3 linked regions of the Homo sapiens genome follow. The protein of the gene in region 1 interacts with the protein of each later gene in a pairwise test. Each region holds a gene or a part of one and is shown in the gene's direction. Other genes may lie near its edges. The genes, in order: SIRT4, PDHX and DLAT.

Region 1 (7,434 bases):
CAGGTTAACTAATGCAGAAAGGGCTGTCAGTGGCTGGAGTGCAGTCACAGGATCATGGCTCACTGCAGCCTTGAAAAAAAAAGGGGGTGGCCGGGCGCAGTGGCTCACACCTGTAATCCCAGATACTGGGGAGGCTGAGGCAGGAGAATCACTTGAACCCGGGAGGCGGAGGTTGCGGTGAGCCAAGATGGCGCCATTGCACTCCAGCCTGGTCAACAAGAGTGAAACTCCATCTCAAAAAAAAAAAAAAAAAAAAAAAAAAGGAGGGGGCTGTCATATGAGTTTCCCCGCCTAGTAGATCCTACAGCTACTGACTTTCGCTGTTGCTGGAGCTACTACTCCCTGTGTACTAAGTTAAAAAGAATCGGCCAGGCGCAGTAGCTCACGCCCGTAATCACAACACTTTGGAAAGCCTAGAGCCCAGGAGTTCGAGACCAGCCTGGGCAACATGGTGAAACCCCGTCTCTACAAAAAAATACAAAAATTAGCTGGGCTTGGTGGCCCACCTGTAGTCCCAGCTACTCAGGAGGCTGAGGTGGGAGGATGGTTTGAGTCCAAGAGGTTGAGGCTGTAGTGCGCAGTGATCGTGCCTCTGAACTCCCGCCTGGGTGAAAGAGTGAGACCATGTCCCCAAAATAAAAAAATAAGCTTTTAAATAATTAAAGTGGCAGGGCGCAGTGGCTCATGCCTGTAATTCCAGCACTTTGGGAGGCTGAGGCGGGCGGATCGCGAGGTCAGGAGTTCGAGACCATGCTGACAAGCATGGTGAAACCCCGTCTCTACTAAAAATACAAAAATTAGCCGGGCATGGTGGCGGGCACCCGTAATCCCAGCTACTCGGGAGGCTGAGGCAGGAGAATCACTTGAACCCGGGAGGCGGAGGTTGCAGTGATCTGAGATCGTGCCACTGCACTCCAGCCTGGGCACAGAGCAATATTCCGTCTCAAAAAATAAATAAATAAATAAATAAATAAATAAATAAATAGCCGGGCGCGGTGGCTCACGCCTGTAATCCCAGTACTTTGGGAGGCTGAGGCGGGCGGATCACGAGGTCAAGAGATAGAGACCATCCTGGCTAACACGGTGAAACCCCGTCTCTACTAAAAAAAAAATACAAAAAATTAGCCGGGTGTGGTGGCGGGCGCCTGTAGTCCGGAGGCTGAGGCAGGAGAATCGCGTGAACCCGGGAGGCGGAGCTTGTAGTGGGCCGAGATCTCTCCACTACACTCCAGCCTGGGCGACAGAGCGAGACTCCGTCTCAAAAATAAATAAATAAATAAATAAATACAATAATAATAATAATAAAAGTGGCGGGGTGCAGTGGCTCACTCCTGTAATCCTAGCATTTTAGGAGACTGAGGCAGGTGGGTCACCTGAGGTCACGAGTTCAAAACCAGCCTGGCCAACATGACGAAACCCCATCTCTACTAAAAATACAAAAATTAGCCGGGCGCAGTGGCGAGCGCCTGTAATCCTAGCTACTCCGGAGGCCGAGGCAGCAGAATCACTTCAGCCGGGAAGGCAGAGGCTTCAGTGAGTGAAGATCGCGCCACTGCACTCCAGCCTGGGCAACAGAGCTAGACTCTCTCAAAAAAAAAAAAAAAAAATTAAAGTTAGTTTTACTTACAAGTCTTACTGAGGATTACAGACCGAGGGCTATAGTGTGGGAGCAGTTCCATCAGACTGGTCCAACACAGAATTTCAGCCACTCATATACAAGTGGTGAGTGTACGGCGCCTGCAAAATCACATTAAACTTGCTTCAAAGTTACATTAAAGCACAATCATATCAAAGTTTGGGTGCAAGAGTATATCTGGTTATGGATTACAGAGGTATCATCACTAACCCCATCAGACATTATCTTGTGCAGGAAAAGGCAATGACCAGAGTCATTTATCTTTTAATGAATATAGTGACTTGGAAGAGACATGGAGGGCTGTGTGCTCTATTCTGTTTTGTCTTCAAAGCATCTTTCTGGAGAGCTGTATGTTGTCACAGAGTCAGGGGCTTCATGAAACGATGCTGCCAAGTCGAAATAAGCAGGCCCGGCATGGTGGCTCACACCTGTAATCCCAGCACTTTGGGAGGCCAAAGCAAGAGCTTTCCTTGAGTTCAGGAGTTTGAGACCAGCCTGAGCAACATAGTGAGACCGTGTCTCGACAAAAATAAAAAATAACAAAATTTAGCTGGGCGTGGTGGTGGATGCCTGTGATCTCAGCTACTCGAGAGGATGAGGTTGGAGGATCCCTTGGGCCTGGGAAGTAGAAACTGCAGTGAGCTGTGATGTCACAACTGCACTCCAGCCTGGGTGACAGAACGAGACCCTGTCTCAAAAAAAAGAAAAAAAAAAAGCAGAAATGGGCAAACTACTAAATGGTCATTTTGCCAATATTACCTCCAAAGATACAATGATAGAACCAAAAACCTAAAAACTCTTTCTCAAGCTTCCACATTACTTCTCTGCACTTCAGTTCATCTTTATTTATTATTATTATTTTTTGAAGAGATGGGATCTCACTTTGTCACCCAGGCTGAAGTGCAGTCGCACAATTATGGCTCACTGCAGCCTCGATCTCCTGGGCTCAAAGTGATCCTCCCACCTGAGCCTCTTGAGTAGCTGGGACTACAGGCACACACCACCACACCCCGCTAATTTTGTTTATTTTTTGTAGTGAGTGGGTCTCACTATGTTGCCCAAGCTGGTCTTGAACTTTTGGGCTCAAGTGATCCTCCTGCCTTGGCCTCCCAAAGTGTTGGTATTACAGGTGGGAACCACTGCACTCAGCCCAATTCATCTTAAAATGGGGGAAGGGAGTCCTTAGGTGGTCTTCAAGGTCCCTGCTGGCCGCCCACCTTTATGTCCAAAGACACTTATACATTTATTGATTTAGGTGATGCTGCAGAGCGGCAGTTCTGGTTGTCTACACATTAGGAACAATTAGGAAATTTGTAGATCAGAATCCCTGGGAGTGAGACGCAGGCCTTGTTTGATTAACTTAATAAAAAAAATATGATAAATAAAATTGGAGAAGCCAAGCAGGTTAAGTACATTAGTCCAGGTATAATATATTTGGCTTCATATTAACTGTAAAAACATCACTTTTGGCTGGGCACAGTGGCTTACGCCTGTAATCCCAGTACTTTGGGAGGCTAGGGTGGGCAGATCACGAGGTCAGGAGATCAAGACCATCCTGGCTAACATGGTGAAACCTTGTCTCTACTAAAAATAAAAAAATTAACCGGGCGTAGTGGCATGCGCCCATAATCCCTGCTACTCAGGAGGCTGAGGCAGGAGAATTGCTTGAACCCGGGAGGCGGAGGTTGCAGTGAGCCGAAATGGCACCATTGCACTCCAGCCTGGGCAACAGAGCGAGACTCCGTCTCAAAAACAAACAAACAAACAACAACAACAACAACAACAAACTATCACTTTTTCAGATATGTATAAACACATTTCTTCACAAGTTCAAGGTATTTTACCAATAGCAAATAACTTGATACTGTCGTTGTGAATGAAAAGGATCACAAACTCTGATGTTTAGAATGAGTCAAATCTAGGCCGGGAACAGTGGCTCAGGCCTGTAATCCCAGCATTTTGGGGGGCCGAGGTTGGCGGATCACCTGAGGTCGGGAGTTCGAGACCAGCCTGGCCAACATGGTGAAACTCTGTCTCTACTAAAAATACAAAAACTTTAAAAAAAAGTCAAATCTAGATCCATGATTAATGACGTGCTCATTTCACATTGCATGTTTGTATCAAAACATCTCATGTGGGTAAAGCATAGACAGGCACAGAGAAAAGAAAAAAAGACAAAAAATAAGAGAAAAGATGGCCGGGCGCAGTGGCTCACGCCTATAATCCCAGCACTTTGGGAGGTCAAGGCGTGCGGATCACCTGAGGTTAGGAGTTCAAGACGAGCCTGGCCAACATGGCGAAACCCCCGTCTCTACTAAAAATACAAAAATAATCCCAGCTACTCGGGAGGCTGAGGCAGGAGAATCGGTTGAACCCGGGAGAGGGAGGTTGCAGTGAGCCGAGATCGTGCCACTGCACTCCAGACTGGAGTTTTTTCAAAAAAAAAAAACAACAACTCCGTCTTAAAAAAAAAAAAGAAAAAAGAAAAAAAATCTTATGTACACTATAAATATATACACCTACTAAGTGCCCACAGAAATTGAAAACAAAGAAAAAAATCCATGATTAAAAGCTTTTATATTAACGGGGGAACCTCTGACCAGAAAGAGCCGACAGGGGGCGTTCCTGGATGATCTGGGGCTGTCAATTGCGAGACGCGGAGGATTGTGGGACTTGTGGTTTTTCTCGCATCATTTAAGCTTTCTGGACTACATGTCCCAAAATGCAAATGCAATCAGACGGTCCCACTGTGGGGTGTGAAGTGTCCGTAGAGCTGTGAGAGGTAAGTGTGTTCTGTGTGTGCTGCGGATTTCTAGAAGTTGTGGATTTCTTGTGAGGGATTCTATTTCTCCTCTTTGCCCTCGGTGGGACCTGGAAGAGAGTAGTTGTTCCACTGATGCACGTTTTCAGCGGGGGTTTCCCCTGACCCTTTGGTCTCGGGAAACCGGACTGTGTGTTTGTTCAGCTGTTCACGTTTTGCTGTGGAATGTCAAGGAGAAAGCGGGGTCCTGATCTCAGATCTGGAAAGCCAAACATAAAATAATGTTTACATACGGGGTGCATGTCACTAGAGGATTTATGCATTGCATTGTGTCAAATAATATGTCAAAGTTTTTTCTTTTTCTTTTTTTTTTTTTTTTTGATACGGAGTCTTGCTTCTTCGCCCAGGCTGGAGTGCAACGGCGCGATCTCGGCTCACTGCAACCTCCGCCTCCCGGGTTCAAGCAATTCTCCTGCCTCAGCCTCCCTAGTAGCTGGGATTACGGGCACGTGCCACAATGCCCGGCTAATTTTTTTTGTATTTTTAGTAGAGTCGGGGTTTCACCATGTTGGCCAGGCATGTCTCGAACTCCTGATCTCAAGTGATCTGCCTGCGTCGGCCTCCCAAAGTGCTGGGATTTCAGACGTGAGCCACCGCACCCGGCCCTCTATTGTTACAGCTAGAAAAGCTGACGGGCAGGGGTCTTGTCTCTCTGATGTGTCCAAGTAGCAGAGCTTGCAGTGGAGGGTAAACTAAAATAAGGGGGAAATGAAAAAATAAAAGGAATGCGTGTGTGTGCTTAATTACATGAACAAAATCAAACAAAACCTGACTCATTAGGGCCAGACTCAGAGGCTCACACCTGTAATTCCAGCACGTTGGGAGGCCGAGGCGGGCAGATCACTAGAGCTCAGGAGTTCGAGACTAGCCTGGCCAACATGGTGAAACCCTGCCTCTACTAAAAATACAATAATTAGCCGGGCATGGTGGCCATGTAGTCCCAGCTATTCTGGAGGCTGAGGCAGGAGAATCACTTGAACCCGGGAGGCGGCGGTTACAGTGAGCCAAGATCATGCCACTGTACTCTAGCCTGGGCAACAGAGGGAGACTCTGTCTCAAAAAACAAAACGAAAACAAACAAACAAAAAATGAGAAAAAAAAAAAACCACCCCAGTTTCTCACATGAGGCTTCTTTTTCTCTAGAATGAAGATGAGCTTTGCGTTGACTTTCAGGTCAGCAAAAGGCCGTTGGATCGCAAACCCCAGCCAGCCGTGCTCGAAAGCCTCCATTGGGTTATTTGTGCCAGCAAGTCCTCCTCTGGACCCTGAGAAGGTCAAAGAGTTACAGCGCTTCATCACCCTTTCCAAGAGACTCCTTGTGATGACTGGGGCAGGAATCTCCACCGAATCGGGGATACCAGACTACAGGTCAGAAAAAGTGGGGCTTTATGCCCGCACTGACCGCAGGCCCATCCAGCATGGTGATTTTGTCCGGAGTGCCCCAATCCGCCAGCGGTACTGGGCGAGAAACTTCGTAGGCTGGCCTCAATTCTCCTCCCACCAGCCTAACCCTGCACACTGGGCTTTGAGCACCTGGGAGAAACTCGGAAAGCTGTACTGGTTGGTGACCCAAAATGTGGATGCTTTGCACACCAAGGCGGGGAGTCGGCGCCTGACAGAGCTCCACGGATGCATGGACAGGTGCAGGAGCTGTACACGGTTTGAACGCAAACCCGTGTGTTGTTTTGGGAGAGTAGGGACCTTGGCTGTCTTGATCACCACAGTCTTAGACCTTGAGAAAAGGATTTCAGAGCAAGTTGTTTATTTTGCAGTTGATTCCAGTAAATTCATTGACGGAGCAAGGATGTAAAACAGGAAAGAGAGGAAAGCCAAGAAAGTGTGTGTTAATGAGTGGGTTACTGCCTTGGGCACTGGGGTTCAGTCCTGTGAGGGACCCTCCAACTGTCTAGGACATGCCTGAGGATTGTCTCAATGAAACTTGAGGACTGGGGCCGGGCGCAGTGGCTCACGCCTGTAATCCCAGCATTTTGGGAGGCTGAGGTGGGCAGATCACATGAGCTCAGGAGTTCGAGACCAGCCTGGCCAACATGGTGAAACCCCATTTCTACTAAAAATACAAAAATTAGCCAGTCGTGGTGGCACATGCCTGTAATCCCAGCTGCTTGGGAGGCTGAGGCAGGAAAATCTCTTGGGAGGCAGAGGTTGCTGCAGTGAGCCGAGATTGCACCACTACACTCCAGCCTGGGCAACAGTGCAAAAAAAAAGAAAAAAAGAAAAAAAAAAGTTGAGGATGGTGCACAGTGGCTCATACCTGTAATCCTAGCACTTTGGAAGGCTGAGGCAGGAAGATTGCTTGAGGCTAACAGTTCAGGACCAACCTGGCAAACACAGTGAGACTCTGTCTCTATATAAGTAAAGTAAATTTTATATATATATATATATATATATATATATATATTTTTTTTTTTTTTTTTTTTTTTTAAAGAAAGTTGAGGCCGGGTGTGGTGGCTCACGCCTGTAATCCCAGCACTTTGGGAGGCCAAGGCAGGCAGATTACCTGAGGTCAGGAGTTCAAGACCAATCTGGTCAACATGGTGAAACCCCGTCTCTACTAAAAATACAAAAATCTGTTGGAAGTGGTGGCACGCACCTGTAATTCCAGCTACTCAGGAGGCTGAGGCAGGAGAATCGCTTGAACCTGGGAGGTAGAGGTTGCAGTGAGCTGAGATCATGAGCTGAGATCATGCCACCACACCCCAGCCTGGGCAACAGAGCAAAACTCCGTCTCAAAAAGAAAAAAAAAAAAGAAAGTTGAGCAAGCTAGGGTGATTTTCTTTTATTTTCTTTTGTGTTTGTGTGTGCACGTGTGTGTGTGTGTGTGTGTGTGTGTATGACAGGCTTTCACTCTGTCACACAGACTGGGATGTGGTGGTGTGATTATAGCTCACTTCAGCCTCAATCTCTTGGGCTCAAGTGATCCTTTCACCCCAGCCTCCTAAGTAGCTGGGACTACAGG
Region 2 (7,112 bases), on another chromosome or scaffold:
TATGTTGATGTTTGCCCTTTAGTGCTGCCAGCCACATGCTAAGCCTTTAAGCATGAATTTCTAACCCATACCAAGGGGTCAGTCCCCTGTAGTCTAATCTTGATCCATGTTGAATGTATTGTTTTAAAAAATCCATAATTTGAAGGAAAACACCACAGCAATAACAACAGCAATAATAATGCCTTTAACAATGAAAATGAAAACAAGTTACTAGCTATCAGACACTATTCTAAGGGCCTTACATATAACTCATTTATTCCTCATAACAACAATGTGAAGTAGCTACTGTTATTTGCATCTTACAGCTCAGAAAACAAGCATGGTGAGATAAGGAAACTTTACTAAGGTCACATAACTAGTAAGTGGTGGAGCCAGCGTTGAAACTCAGGAAGTCTGTACACAACTGGGAGGGAAGGCTAATATTTGAAATGATAGACTCAACATTCAATATTTCAGTATCGATGAGCTCTAAGTTGATAGAGCTATGTGTAAAAACCCTGCATTTAATATTAAGAAATCATTGGCAGAAGAGTAAGAGAGGGCTTTGGTCAAGTAAGCTGAGTGCATAAGAAAACTCTGGCATTTGAGGTGTCCTTAGCTCCAGATGCTTTGGTAGGGCAGAGTGTATCCATGGAGGTACCATGAGCTACCATGGAGGTAGCTCAGAGAGGAAAGGGAACAGTAACAGAGGCCTGCTTGGTTTTTAAACAGTTTTGCAAAGAGTATTATTTACGTATTTATACTAAGTCTACACCAGTTTTGAGTATTTGCCTACTACAGTGTAAGCAAATGCTTACAGGAAATTAGCACACCTCTGAAAGATCTCTGCACCAAAGGAATAGAAAAGGTTGAAGAAATTATCTTAAATTCATATAGAGATTTTAATGACTTTAAATGGAATTATAATCAACTGTATTTTATCTTCTGTTATATATTCAAGTTGTATGGTTGTATATCACTTGTCCTTGTCCATTGTATTTGGGTTTCATGCTTCATGGTGTCACTTTTTTAAATAGAAAAAAATGTGAATAGTTAAAAATAAATTTTATTTGATATTTAGATAATGGTAAAAATTGAAATGATGATAAATGCTGTTTATTGCCTACTTGTGAAGGTGTCAATGTTACGTTGGTAGAGTATATATGGAATCATTTATATGATTTACAGTAAATGAAACAGAAGGTGAGGTACCACTTTCAGATGTAGTACAGTTGTCTGACTCAGATTTTAGAAATCTATTGATATTTTTAAAGCAAAACTTTTTTTAATGCTTTACATTTGAATGATGTTCTTTGTACTTGGATATTGATCCTATTTCTGATTCAGTTTTGAAAGGAATTAACATCAAGTGGACTTCATGTCACTTAACAGTGCTTTTTTGTATACATTTTTAAAGAAAATTAGTCATTTTACTTTGATTTTTGAGTTAGCAATTCACAAGCAGGTAATTAAACACTTTTAGAAGAAAAATATTGGTCTAATAATAATCTTAACTCATCTTTTTGACATAGTAAAGAAAAAGGAACTCTGCAGAAGCAAAATTTTTTAGTATGTGGCAAACAACTAAGCAACTAGATTTTTCTTGGCTTTCTTAGTATTCTTCCATAGCTTGTAATTCATTAAACATTCCTATTCAGCTTTCTATACTAATTTCATATATATATATATGTATTTTGCTTCATGAAAGCATTGCTGCTTTTCTTCTTCATCAGTAATTAGTAAACTTAGCTTCCTAACCCCTTATAACTTATGCCTTATTAACGATAGTGAACATACCAGTAAGCATTGAAATTAGTGTTACTCTGATATGTCAAACTCATTCTAGAAGTTATGCTTTTCCTTACCATTACTGTATTAGTGGACGTCCTGCAGCCTATCATTCTATTGTTCATTAAATACAGCTAATGAACCTTATTTAGAGTAATTGAAAGGGAATAATAGAAGATTTTAAGGGAATGACATTTTCTTCCAGGAGTGAACTTATAAAATATTGTTATTTGAAGGTTTTCTAGGGACTTCTTTTTAGTAAGTAAATTAGAATTAGCCCTTTCTTTATAAATTAATGCTGCTGAAATGCTTAAAATATACTTAACTTTTAAAAACATTATCTTTGATTTTATTTAAGTGTTTAATTGGCATTATCTGTGGAAGAAATGCTTTATTAACTGAGACACCACTGTGTTTCTGATATACTTATAAAAAAACTCATGAGGTTTTATTTTATTTTTCAGGTTTTGTAAATAGATATACAGGGAAATAATTAAATATAAAGAAGTAGACTATATTTAACATTAACTGGAATAGTTAACCAGTTCTATCTATACATTAGAATGTTCATCTTTTCAGACTAAGTTTACTGAAAAGATTCTTGCATTAGGTAAATTTTAGTAGATTGGACTAAGTTGAGGGAGTTAATCCCTTCTGAGCTTTTAGAATTCTAAAGCCATTGCATAGAAACTCTCTGGGAAAGACAAATGGTTAAGATATGTAGCCACAGGCTCCTGTTTGGATTTGTATTGACATCAAAAAGAAGATGATAATGATGGATCTTACATGTTTATTTGAAGGCTCTCAGAAAGAGGATACATTCTAGATTTATCCTTTATTTCAGAAGGTAGCATTAGCAAGTGGGAAGAGGAGAATGGTGAAGGAAGGCATAAGTGGGAGAAAGTGGAGAAGGTGACAGGTGGAAGGCAGAGGCAAACTGTCTTGGAAGCAGCTTTTAGCTCAAATTAAGATATCTTAAGGGGAGAATTACCCAACAAAAGAACAAACTACTTAATGCAGTCATGGGGTTTTACTTCTCTACAGTTACTTCTTTTTTAAATATAGGTTGAAGAAGGAAGTAAAAATATACGGCTAGGTTCACTAATTGGTTTGATAGTAGAAGAAGGAGAAGATTGGAAACATGTTGAAATTCCCAAAGACGTAGGTCCTCCACCACCAGTTTCAAAACCTTCAGAGCCTCGCCCCTCACCAGAACCACAGATTTCCATCCCTGTCAAGAAGGAACACATACCCGGGACACTACGGTGAGTATATATTTATTCAAAGGATGATGTAAAAAAAAAAAGTTATGGCAGTTCTTATGGAATTGTAATCATTATCATATTCGCACATCGTTGTACATCACGTAGGAAGTTGCTGTTCTCAGCACACTCAGACCTTAGAGTGTGTGTTTTTTTTTTTAACCATCATTGTTCATTCAGTAAATAAATAGTTACTGAATATCTGCTATGTTCCAGGTACTCTAAAAGCCCTGCTTGCACAATGGAAAACCAAACAGTATGTGTCCATGTTGAGGTTGAATTAGGTTTTAGAAGTCTAAAATGGTATTCAATATACCAAACTTGATACTCTGTTCCCATTTATGGAGTTCTAATTACTGTTACAGGAATTCCAAGCTCAAATGTCTATCTGATATAAAATAGAATTCATGTTTTAACATGCATTCGTTTTCAAACTAGTCTGCATTATGACTTTCCGGCACAGACTAGAGCTCAATTTTGTCTGTTCTGTAACAAAACAGATAACTTAATACACATCATTTCACTTTAGTTTTACATTGCTTTAATAGAAGAACTCTGTAAATTCTAACATTTCATTTATTTAGTATTCTATATAATTATACAACATTACTTTTTCTTTACGAGAAAAAGATCTTCATAAAGTAGACCTCTTCATTCTTAAACATTTTTTCCTTTAGTTTATCATTGTCAGAAAAGAATCCACAGTGCTTTTTTTAGGGGGGGGCGTGCGGAGGTGGGTGACGGAGTTTTGATCTCATTGTCCAGGCTGGAGTGCAATGGTGCAATCTCAGCTTACCGCAACCTCGGTCTTCTGGGTTCAAGCGATTCTCCTGCCTCAGCCTCCTGAGTAGCTGGAATTACAGGCATGTGCCACCATGCCTGGCTAATTTTTTTGTATTTTTGGTAGAGATGGAGTTTCTCCATGTTGGCCAGGCTGGTCTCGAACTCCTGACTTCATGATCCGCCTGCCTCGGCCTCCCAAAGTGCTGGGATTACAGGCGTGAGCCACTGCGCCTGGCCTGCTTTTTGAAGTACTGATTTTAAATTCCTAGTGCAGTGTTTCTGACTCTGTTGCCTTGACTCCCATTTACTGTCTCCTCTTTCATTTACCCTAAAAATTGGAAGACAGTCTCACTGATGCTTTCTAACTAATGGTCTTCTGCCCTTGCAAAGATAATAATAGTATGTACCCTAATTAAGATCAGTCATCATCAGAGACTCGCATGAATCAGGCCCCACTGTGTAGGTTAAAAACCTACTGACCTGTGAACTCTGCATACTGTTGGGCACACAGTGAATGAAAAAAAAATTTTTTTTTGGTTGGTTGGTTACTAATCCTATATAAAAATCTAAAATTTCAGATTCTCTTGAAAAATCTAAAGATTTAGTAACATTGGGCCCATATCAGAGTTATTTAATACTTCCCTGAAATGCAGCAAGTTCCACAGTTGTTTCTGTCTCTTAGCTTTAATTTCTAGATCCAGCCTGTTTTAATCTGTACTAATCAGGCTTATTTTCTTTATCTGACCATGTAGTAATTTGTTTACTACTTTGCATACAAGAGATATACCATTAGTCATGTAATCTGAGGTATCCTATATATATAATAAATATATATAATTGTGTATACATACAATTCAACCTCAGCAAAACAACCCAATTAAAAAACAGGTGAAGAACTTTAATAGCATTTCTCCCAAGAAGATACATAGATGGCCAGCAGGCACATGAAAAATATGTTCACCGTCACTAACCATTAGGGAAATGAAAATCAAAACCACAATGAGACACCCCTTCATACCCTTCAGGATGGCTAGTATCAAAACAAACAAACAAACAAAAACCAAACCAGACCCAGATTATAACAAGTGTTGGCAAGGACATGGATAATTTGGAACCCTTGTTGTTGCCTAGTGGAAGTGTAAAATGCTGCAGCTACTGTGGAAAACAGTATGGCAGTTTCTTAGAAAATTAAAATTACCATATCATCTAGTAGGTCCACTTCCAGATATATATGCAAAATAACTGAAAGCAAAGACTGGAAAGAGATATTTGTACATCTATGTTCATAGCAACATTATTCACAGTAGCAAAATGGTAGAAACAACTCATAAGTCCAAAATGCTATGAAATGTGATTCAGCTTTTTAGGAAGGAAATTCTGATAAATGCTGCATGGATAAACCTTGAGAATATTATGCTCAGTAAAATAAGCCAGTCACAAAACAAATAACTGTATGATTCTACTTATGTGAGTTACCTAGAGTAGTCAAATTGACAGAGACAAAGAGAATGGTTACCAGGGGTTGGGAGGAAGGAGGAATGGAGAGTTACTGTTTAATAGATACAGAGTTTCAATTTGGAAAGATGAACATTTCTGGAGATAGATGGTGGTGATGGTTGCACAATAGTGTGATTGTACTAAATGCCACTCAGTTGTACACCTAAAAATGCTTAAAATGATAAATTTTAGGTATCATTTGCCACAATACAAAATATATGAAGAAATGATAGAACAAAATATACGAAGGAAACAATTGGTAGTTGTGATGAGCACCCATGTGAAAGTAATTAGTTGAAATAGCAGCTCTTTCCCCTAATTAATATTTATTCTTATTAAAATCATATTTAGAAATAGTAACTAAATTTTTACGAAAGTGTTTAAAGAATAAAATAAACCAAATTGGTACAGATTATTTGACTGTGACCATCTGTGGGAGTCATTTTAGCTTTATTATAAGATTTTTTTTTAATTATTTGCGAAACTGTTGACATTTAGATCTATTTGAATCAAATGTAAGTGTTAATTGGTTCTATTAACCTTCATATTTTTTTCTTAGGTTCCGTTTAAGTCCAGCTGCCCGCAATATTCTGGAAAAACACTCACTGGATGCTAGCCAGGGCACAGCCACTGGCCCTCGGGGGATATTCACTAAAGAGTATGTGTTTGCTTTTTGTAATAACCAGTTCCATTATTTATTATGATCATGTTTTTTTGAAAGAAAATAAAAAGAGCTTATTCAGTCTTAAGATTTAAAAGGAGGTACACTGTTCTTCTTTTGTACTTTTAATTGCTTTTATCATTGTAAATTGTATTCTATGCAAGAGTTGTTTTCTGAATAATTATAGCATTACTGAAGAACAGCTCTAATTTGGTAACTAAGCAAGATCCTTAGAAGTGGTAATAAATGCAGAAAATTAGAGCGTAGAACAGTGAAACTTTATACAGTATTAAATATGTGAAATCATGCAATAACATTTACATTTCTAAAACAAGGAAATATATTTTTAAAAAATTATTTTCATTATCCCTTTGAATTTTATTCACTTGTGCTGTTATAAAGCAATTTCCATATACAGTTTGGTCTCTTTTTAGATTTTCTTTTCTATTTCACTGATCCATCTGTCCATGAGTTAGTACCATACTTTTTTAGTACCACACTTTTAATTAGAAATGTTTTATTGTATGCTTTAAAATCTGATAACAATAGCTTTGCTCTTTTTTTAAATCAGTTTTCTTAGTTCATTCTTATTTTATTATTCTTCCAAATGAATTTTAAGCAGTTCGTCTAGCTCCATGGGTAGGAGTGAGGGGTATTTTTATGGGATTGTATCACATTTTAAATTAACTTTGTGAGAACTGACATCTTTATCATGATGGGTCTTTCTGTTCTGCAACACTGGTTTAAATGTTTGTGTCTTTCCATTAGTTTAAATGTTTGTGTCTTTCAAAACAGATGGCCCCTGTTCTGTTGAAACTTAGTCTAGTAGGGTAGACAAAGATTAATCAAATAGGCTTATGAACTAATGTAAGATTTCAGTAGTGTTATGTGCTACATTTTTATTGGCAGTAATAGTAAATGTTTCAAATTGAGTTTATGTTTTAAAGCAATGTACTCATTCCATATTTATCTAATATTGATAGGAAATAAAAAATAATATTGGCCAGAATTTTTGTAAGTCGAGAGAGAGCAATGGTTGTTAAATTATAAGTGGCAGTGTTGGGCCAGGCAATGTTTTCTTTTTTCCACTGGGTTATTTTACTCTTCATGAAAGCTTTGGCTTACTGTTGGGTGTTTATTTT
Region 3 (7,112 bases), on another chromosome or scaffold:
ATTTTCACCTTCAGCCCCTGGGCAATTTGTTATAGTGCTTGAGTCTATAGATTTGTATTTTCTAGACCTTTTATAGAAATGGAGTCATAAAATATGTGGTCTTTTGCATCTACTTTCTTTCACTTAACGAAATGTTTTTGAGACTCATCCATGTTGTAGCATGTATCTGTAGTTTATTCTTTTTTATTGCTGTATAGTGTTTAATCGTATCAATATACCTCTTTATCATTCACCAGTTAACATGTTTTCCAGTTTTTTGCTATTATGAATGATGCTACTATGAGTATTTACATACAGTTATTTGTGTGGACATATATTTTTATTTCTCTTCAGTAGATTCCTAGGAGTGGAATACCTGAGTCATAGGGTAAAATTATGTTTAATTTTTAGAGAAACTTCTACATTATTTTTCAAAGTGGTTGCACCATTTTACCTTCCCACCAATAGTGGATAAGTGTTCCAGTTTCTCTATGTCCTCATCAATATTTGTTACCGTGTGGGTGTGAAGTGAGAACCATCTACTTGTGAGAGTATCTCGCTTTATTGCACTTTGATTTATTGTGCTTTTTTATAAATTGAAGGCTTGTGGCAACCCTCTGTCAAGCAAGTTGATGGCACCATTTTTCCAACAGCATGTGCTCACTTCCTGTCTCTGTGTCACATTTTGGCAATTCCTAGAGTATTTCAAACTTTATTATTGTATCTGTTATGGTGACCTGTGATCAAGGATCTTTGATGTTACCATTGTAATTGTTTCAATGCCCCATGAACCATGCCCATATAAGATGGCAAACTTCATTGATAAATTTTGCATGTGTTCTGACTGGTTGATAGAATTGATAGAATTATCAACCAGCTGTTCCTCTGTCTCTCTCCCTCTCCTTGGGCCTCCCTATTCCATGAGACACAATAAAACTGAAATCAGGCCAATTAGTAACTCTACAATGGCCTCTGAGTGTTTCAGTGAAAGGAAGACTTTCACGTCTCTTACTTTAAATCAAAAGCTAGAAATGATTAAGCTCAATGAGTAAGGCATGTCAAAAGCCAAGATCGGTTGAAAGCTAGGCCTCTTGTGCCAAACAGCCAACTTGTGAATACAAAGAAAAAGCTCTTGAAAGAAATGAAAAGTACTATCCTGGTGAACACACGAATGATAAGAAAGTGAAACAGCCTTGTTGCTGATACGGAGAAAGTTTTGAGTGGTCTAGATAAAAGATTAAACCAGGTACAGCATTCCCTTAAGCCAAAGCTTAATTCAGAGCAAGGCCCTAACTCTCTTCAATTCTTTGAAGGCTGATAGAGGTGAGGAAGCCGCGTAACAGAAGTTTGAGGCTAGCAGAGGTTGGCTCATGAGGTTGAAGGAAAGGAGGCCATAATAACATAAAAGTACAGGGTGAAGCAGCAAATTATTCAGAAGATACAGCTAAGATAATTGATATCCCTCATCAGTCGGCAGCCATCAACATCAAGGCAAGATCTACCAGCAAAAAATTACAATTCACTAAAAGTTCAGGTGATTTTTAGCATATTTTAGCAATAAAGTATTTTTAAATTAAGGTGTATACATTGGTTTTTTGTTAGTCACGATGCTATTGCACTCTTAGTAGACAACAGTGTAGTGTTAAGCATAACTTTTGTATGTACTAGGAGATCAGAAAATTCATGTGACTCGCTTTATTGCAATATTATTTTGGTGGTCTGGAACTGAACCTGGAATATCAAGATATTTCTATACTTAGATGAAGAAATTGAGGTTGTCTGTTAATTCTAACCAAACACCATTCATTTACTTGTTCATACACCCATTCAACATTTATTTAACATGTACTGTTTACTGGATTCAGTGGTGAACAATATAGGGAATACTGTCCTTACTGTCTCAAAGGGAAGATGATTGAACAAGCAATATTGTAATAATTTATTCAAGAAAGCAGTATTTGCTGTGTGATACCTTGGCTACAGTTCTGTGGTAATTAATGAGTCATACACGGTATTTTTATTAGAGCAGGTTCCTGTGTTTGTTTGCAAGTGACAAAATCCTGCTCTAGCCAACTTAGGCAAATTGGGGGATTTGGTACCCACTGATCTTTTTGGAGCTTGTGCCTAGAAAGAGCTGGAGTTCTTTGGAGGCAGAGCTGTGCCTTTGTTTGAAGTCTTAACTTTTTCTCGATTGCAGAACACTAGCAGGGGCCCTTAGGCAGACCCCAAGGAGACCACGGATAAAATCCATGAATCCATGAGCTTGTGAACTTCAGTTGGGGTGGGGGAAGGGGGGGGTGGGGGGGGGGAATCACCTTTTTTTTTTTCTACTAACATTTAGCATTTCTTCCTTTTATAAATGTAGAGAACAGATCAAATGTTAACAGTACTTGTGTCTGGTGACCAATAAAAATCAGTTATTTTCATATCACATTGTAGTTGTATATATCTCAAAATGTTATTTTGTTCATCCCTGCTTCAAAATGATAGCCATTATTAGACCTGCAACAAGATCTTATTATTGAGTGAATACAGAAGCACATTTGTCATAATTTTGCTTTTGAACCGTTTGATAACTGAATTTCAGTATAGTTTCTCTCTTTTTTCTAGTAATTTGAGTATTTTCAGTGTTAAAAAGGTATTCTGAGATAAGATCCAGATGCATAGGGACACATTCTGTAGAAAAGATTGGGACTCCTTGATAACAGAAGATCTGATATTGTGTAAAAAAAAAAAAAAGATTGGGACCCCTTACTTTTACGTTCTTCTGAGGTACCACCACCCATGTATCCTGAGCACTCCTATTTCTTGCTACAATGCAGTTCTTTCCCTTCACTCTTCCTTTCATCTGCTCAAACTACTTGCAGAGACTCAACTGCAGCCAATGTACGTCCACTCAAAATCCAAGGAGTTCTGATTGGTGGGGTTTTCTTTCAGCTGCATTCACGTGTCGGTCAAGGCAGACGGCAGGGGATGTTAGACGATATGTGCGAAACCAACCTACTGCTGCTGACACATTTCTCATTCTTTTTTTTTTTTTTTTTTCTTGGCAGGCGGTGGGGTCAGGGGCAGGGGCAGCGTTGGGGGATGGAGTCTCGCTCTGCTGCCCAGGCTGGAGTGCAGTGGTGTGATCTCAGCTCACTGCAACCTCCACCTCCCAGGTTCAAGTGGTTCTCCTGCCTCAGCCTCCTGAGTAGCTGGCACTACAGCTGTGCACCACCATGCCCAGCTAACTTTTGTATTTTTGGTAGAGACAGAGTTTCGCCATGTTGGCCAGGCTGGTCTCAAACTACTGACTTCAAGTGATCCGCCCACCTCAGCCTCCCAAAGTGTTGGGATTACAGGCATGAGCCACCGTTCCCGGACCTCTCTTTGATTTTTAATAACTACAAGTCAAGGAGAGGGCACAGCAAAATGTAAAAATTAGGATAGACATCTTAATTTTTGTCTTTGGCTGAACAATAACACACATTGGTTCAAAAAATTTTTGAAGTAAATATAAATATTCTTGCTTAACCTGGCACACAGGCTCTTAATAAACAGTTTTTTATTATATTTATTTTTCTTTTTAAACAGAAATCATGTTGTTGATGTCAGTGTTGCGGTCAGTACTCCTGCAGGACTCATCACACCTATTGTGTTTAATGCACATATAAAAGGAGTGGAAACCATTGCTAATGATGTTGTTTCTTTAGCAACCAAAGCAAGAGAGGGTAAACTACAGCCACATGAATTCCAGGTAGGGTATTAATTATTGCTTTCTAATTATGTTATTTTTAAGGTTTGCATAATGCATTTATTGCATTTTTCACCTTTTGATTCTGTCACGTAATTTTTTTTTTTTTTTTTTTTTTTGAGACGGAGTCTCTCTGTCACCCAGGCTGGAGTGCAGTGGCATGATCTCGGCTCACTGCAAGCTCCGCCTCCTGGGTTACGCCATTCTCCTGCCTCAGCCTCCCAAGTAGCTGGGACTACAGGCACCTGCCACCACGCCCGGCTAGTTTTTTGTATTTTTAGTAGAGACTGGTTTTCACCATGTTGGCCAGGATGGTCTTGATCTCCTGACCTTGTGATCCGCCTGCCTCAGCCTCCCAAAGTGCTGGGATTACAGGCATGAGCCACCACGCCCAGCGTAATTCTTTTTTGAAACAGAGTCTCACTCTTGTCACCCAGGTTGGAGTACAATGGTGCAATCTTGGCTCACTGCAACCTCCGCCTCCCAGGTTCAAGCAATTCTCCTACCTCTGCCTCCTGAGTAGCTGGTATTACAGGCATGCACCACTGCACCTGACTAATTTTGTGTGTGTGTGTATGTTTTTAGTAGTGTCGGGGTTTCACCATGTTGGCCAGGCTGGTTTCAAACTCCTGACCTCAAATGATCCACCCGCCTCACCCTCTCGAAGTGCTGGGATTACAGGTGTGAGCCACTGTGCCTGGCCTGCCACGTAACTCTTATTGACACACCGTTCTGAAAATAAAGTAAAATTCAATCATATATCCAAAAGAAGATATTGTTTGAAAATAAGACATTTTCCGGCTGACATTTTTGTTCATATTGTAATGGTTGTATATCTTCAGTAATGTGTATTCCATTCAGGCCTTTCTTAAGACCTTGCACCTTTTTAGCTTAAGGTCTTTTCACAGAACATTTGTCAAGTTTTCTGATTTATGTTGACAAACTATAATTTATTTTTAATTTTTTTTCCTCTAGGGTGGCACTTTTACGATCTCCAATTTAGGAATGTTTGGAATTAAGAATTTCTCTGCTATTATTAACCCACCTCAAGCATGTATTTTGGCAATTGGTGCTTCAGAGGATAAACTGGTCCCTGCAGATAATGAAAAAGGGTAAGTGCCAAAATGGAGGGGAAGTCGTAAGCTAATTTTTATTACACTGTACACTTGTCCTGTGGTATCCTCAGGGGATTGGCTCCAGGAACCCCCTCAAATATCGTGATCCACAATGCTCAAGTCCCTGATATGATATGATGTAATATTTGCATATAACCTACACACATTATTCTGTATACTTTATTCTTGACTTATAATAATACAATACCTAAACAGCACTTCATTCACATGGATCCAGTGTAGTGCCCGGTGTGCAGCAAATTCAAGTTGTGCTTACTGGAAATTTGTGGAATTGTTTACTTTCTGGATATTTTGATCCATGGTTGGTTGAATCTATGGATTCGGAACCCATGGATATATGGAGGGTCAACCATACCTGTTTTTGAGTATCAGTGTTTTTTTTGTTTGTTTGTTTGAGATGGAGTCTCACTCACCCTGTCACCCAGGCAGAAGTGCAGTGGTGCCATCTCGGCTCACTGCAATCCCCGCCTCCCAGGTTCAAATAATTCTCCTGCCTCAGCCTCCCAAGTAGCTATAGCTGGGATTACAGGCATGTACTACCACACTTGGCTAATTTTTGTATTTTTAGTAGACATGTTGTTTCACCATGTAGGCCAGGCTGGTCTTGATCCTGACCTCAAATGATCTGCTCACCTCAGCCTTCCAAAGTGCTGGGATTACAGGAATGAGCCAGTGTGCCTGGCCAGAGTCTCAGTTTTATATATAGTTATTGGCATGCTATATTGTATCTTCAAATAAAATTATATATATATAAAAAATACGAAATTCTTCAAGGCAGCAACTTTACTAAATGCAGTTAGTCCTATTTGAGGTGGAAAGCCTTATTTATTCTAGGTGAGGAGTCAGCATGCTTTTTTTTAGTTGTATAGTAAGTATTTTAGGCTTTCTGGGACATATGGCTGCTGTTGCAAATAATCTGCCATTGTAGTATGAAGGGAGGCATAAACAAGACAAATGAATTGCAGTAAATCTTTACCTAATAAAAACAGGCAGAGGACAGGATTTGGCCCATTGCCCACCCATACTCCAGGTATCTGGTCTGTTTCTTCAAGCTATAAATTTGAGCTAAAGGTATAGGAGACTGGAAGAGTAGATAGGAAGTATTACCTGGTTGGGATTATAGGGTAGGAGTGAGCATTTGGGTGGTTACTGGCTGAAATGCAGTATTTTCTTTCAGAATATCTAAAATGTCTTTATCTTTTTCTAGGTTTGATGTGGCTAGCATGATGTCTGTTACACTCAGTTGTGATCACCGGGTGGTGGATGGAGCAGTTGGAGCCCAGTGGCTTGCTGAGTTTAGAAAGTACCTTGAAAAACCTATCACTATGTTGTTGTAACTAACTCAAGAATTTCTAAACTCTCCCAGGTCACACTGATTCATTCTTAACAAGATATTTATATGTTATTAAACAGGTGGTTCTTTTTATTTTAACCAGTTATTTTTATTATTGAGTCTGTCCAGATAAGTTATTTATAATGGGCATTACTGAATTTTTAAAATGCCGATTACACCCAAATATTGTGCACATTTAATAATCAGACACCAGATTTTTAGCTCTGTACTCCTAATTAAGGGACATGTATGTGGCCTTGCCTAGCCCTTTGGTGATAAGTACTTCCTCTAGGAAATGTACGATAGGTAGAATTGTGGTTCCCTAAAGACAAGTACATAAAGGTGACCCTGATGAAACCTTGAAGTTCTGAAATTTAACTGCCTAAAATGTTCTCCTTAGATGTGAGAGAAAGAGAAATCAGAAAAATTAATTCTCTTGGGGGAAGGGCTTGAATTGAAGCTTTACTTTAGAATTTAGCCCTGGTTTGAAATTTTCCATTACATGATCTTGGTTTATCATCGATGGGAAGGGTAGAAAACTTCAAGGAAAATAAGTGAAATTTTAAAAGTCAGCATTTTCTTAGACCTCTTCAGCTGATTGTTTATTTTTCTATGAATTCCTACACATGGTTATTCCCCCCTACTTGAGATAATCTAAATATAAACCAGCTACTTGATGTAACTGAGAATTTGTGTGGATATTTATTTAAACAAATGTGTAATTTTGAGTACAGAATTCAACAGTTACCTCCAAAAAAGAAACATTGTTAATATAATTTAACAGAAGTTGTGAAACTAAAATTTTCTAAGATTAACTGGTAGTTCATTGTAAATGAACATAATGAACAGAATTTATGACTCCACTGTGGAAAATGCTATCAAATAACTAAGGAATATATATGGAATAAGTGTACATATGTAAAATATT

What was found.
Region 2: the proteins of SIRT4 (region 1) and PDHX interact in binary tests that used the Homo sapiens proteins (3 or more experiments, as listed by UniProt).
Region 3: the proteins of SIRT4 (region 1) and DLAT interact in binary tests that used the Homo sapiens proteins (3 or more experiments, as listed by UniProt).

What each region holds. Positions count from the first base shown.
Region 1 is NC_000012.12:120,297,961-120,305,394, forward strand, and holds the start of SIRT4 (NAD-dependent protein lipoamidase sirtuin-4, mitochondrial), read left to right. Parts: upstream 1-4,360; 5' UTR 4,361-4,418; intron 4,419-5,600; 5' UTR 5,601-5,601; coding exon 5,602-6,098; intron 6,099-7,434. UniProt on the Homo sapiens protein: Acts as a NAD-dependent protein lipoamidase, biotinylase, deacetylase and ADP-ribosyl transferase. Catalyzes more efficiently removal of lipoyl- and biotinyl- than acetyl-lysine modifications.
Region 2 is NC_000011.10:34,954,552-34,961,663, forward strand, and holds part of PDHX (pyruvate dehydrogenase protein X component, mitochondrial isoform 1 precursor), read left to right. Parts: intron 1-2,832; coding exon 2,833-3,032; intron 3,033-5,868; coding exon 5,869-5,967; intron 5,968-7,112.
Region 3 is NC_000011.10:112,056,348-112,063,459, forward strand, and holds part of DLAT (dihydrolipoyllysine-residue acetyltransferase component of pyruvate dehydrogenase complex, mitochondrial isoform 2 precursor), read left to right. Parts: intron 1-3,555; coding exon 3,556-3,718; intron 3,719-4,372; exon of another isoform or gene 4,373-4,390; coding exon of another isoform or gene 4,391-4,447; intron 4,448-4,690; coding exon 4,691-4,827; intron 4,828-6,058; coding exon 6,059-6,188; 3' UTR 6,189-7,112.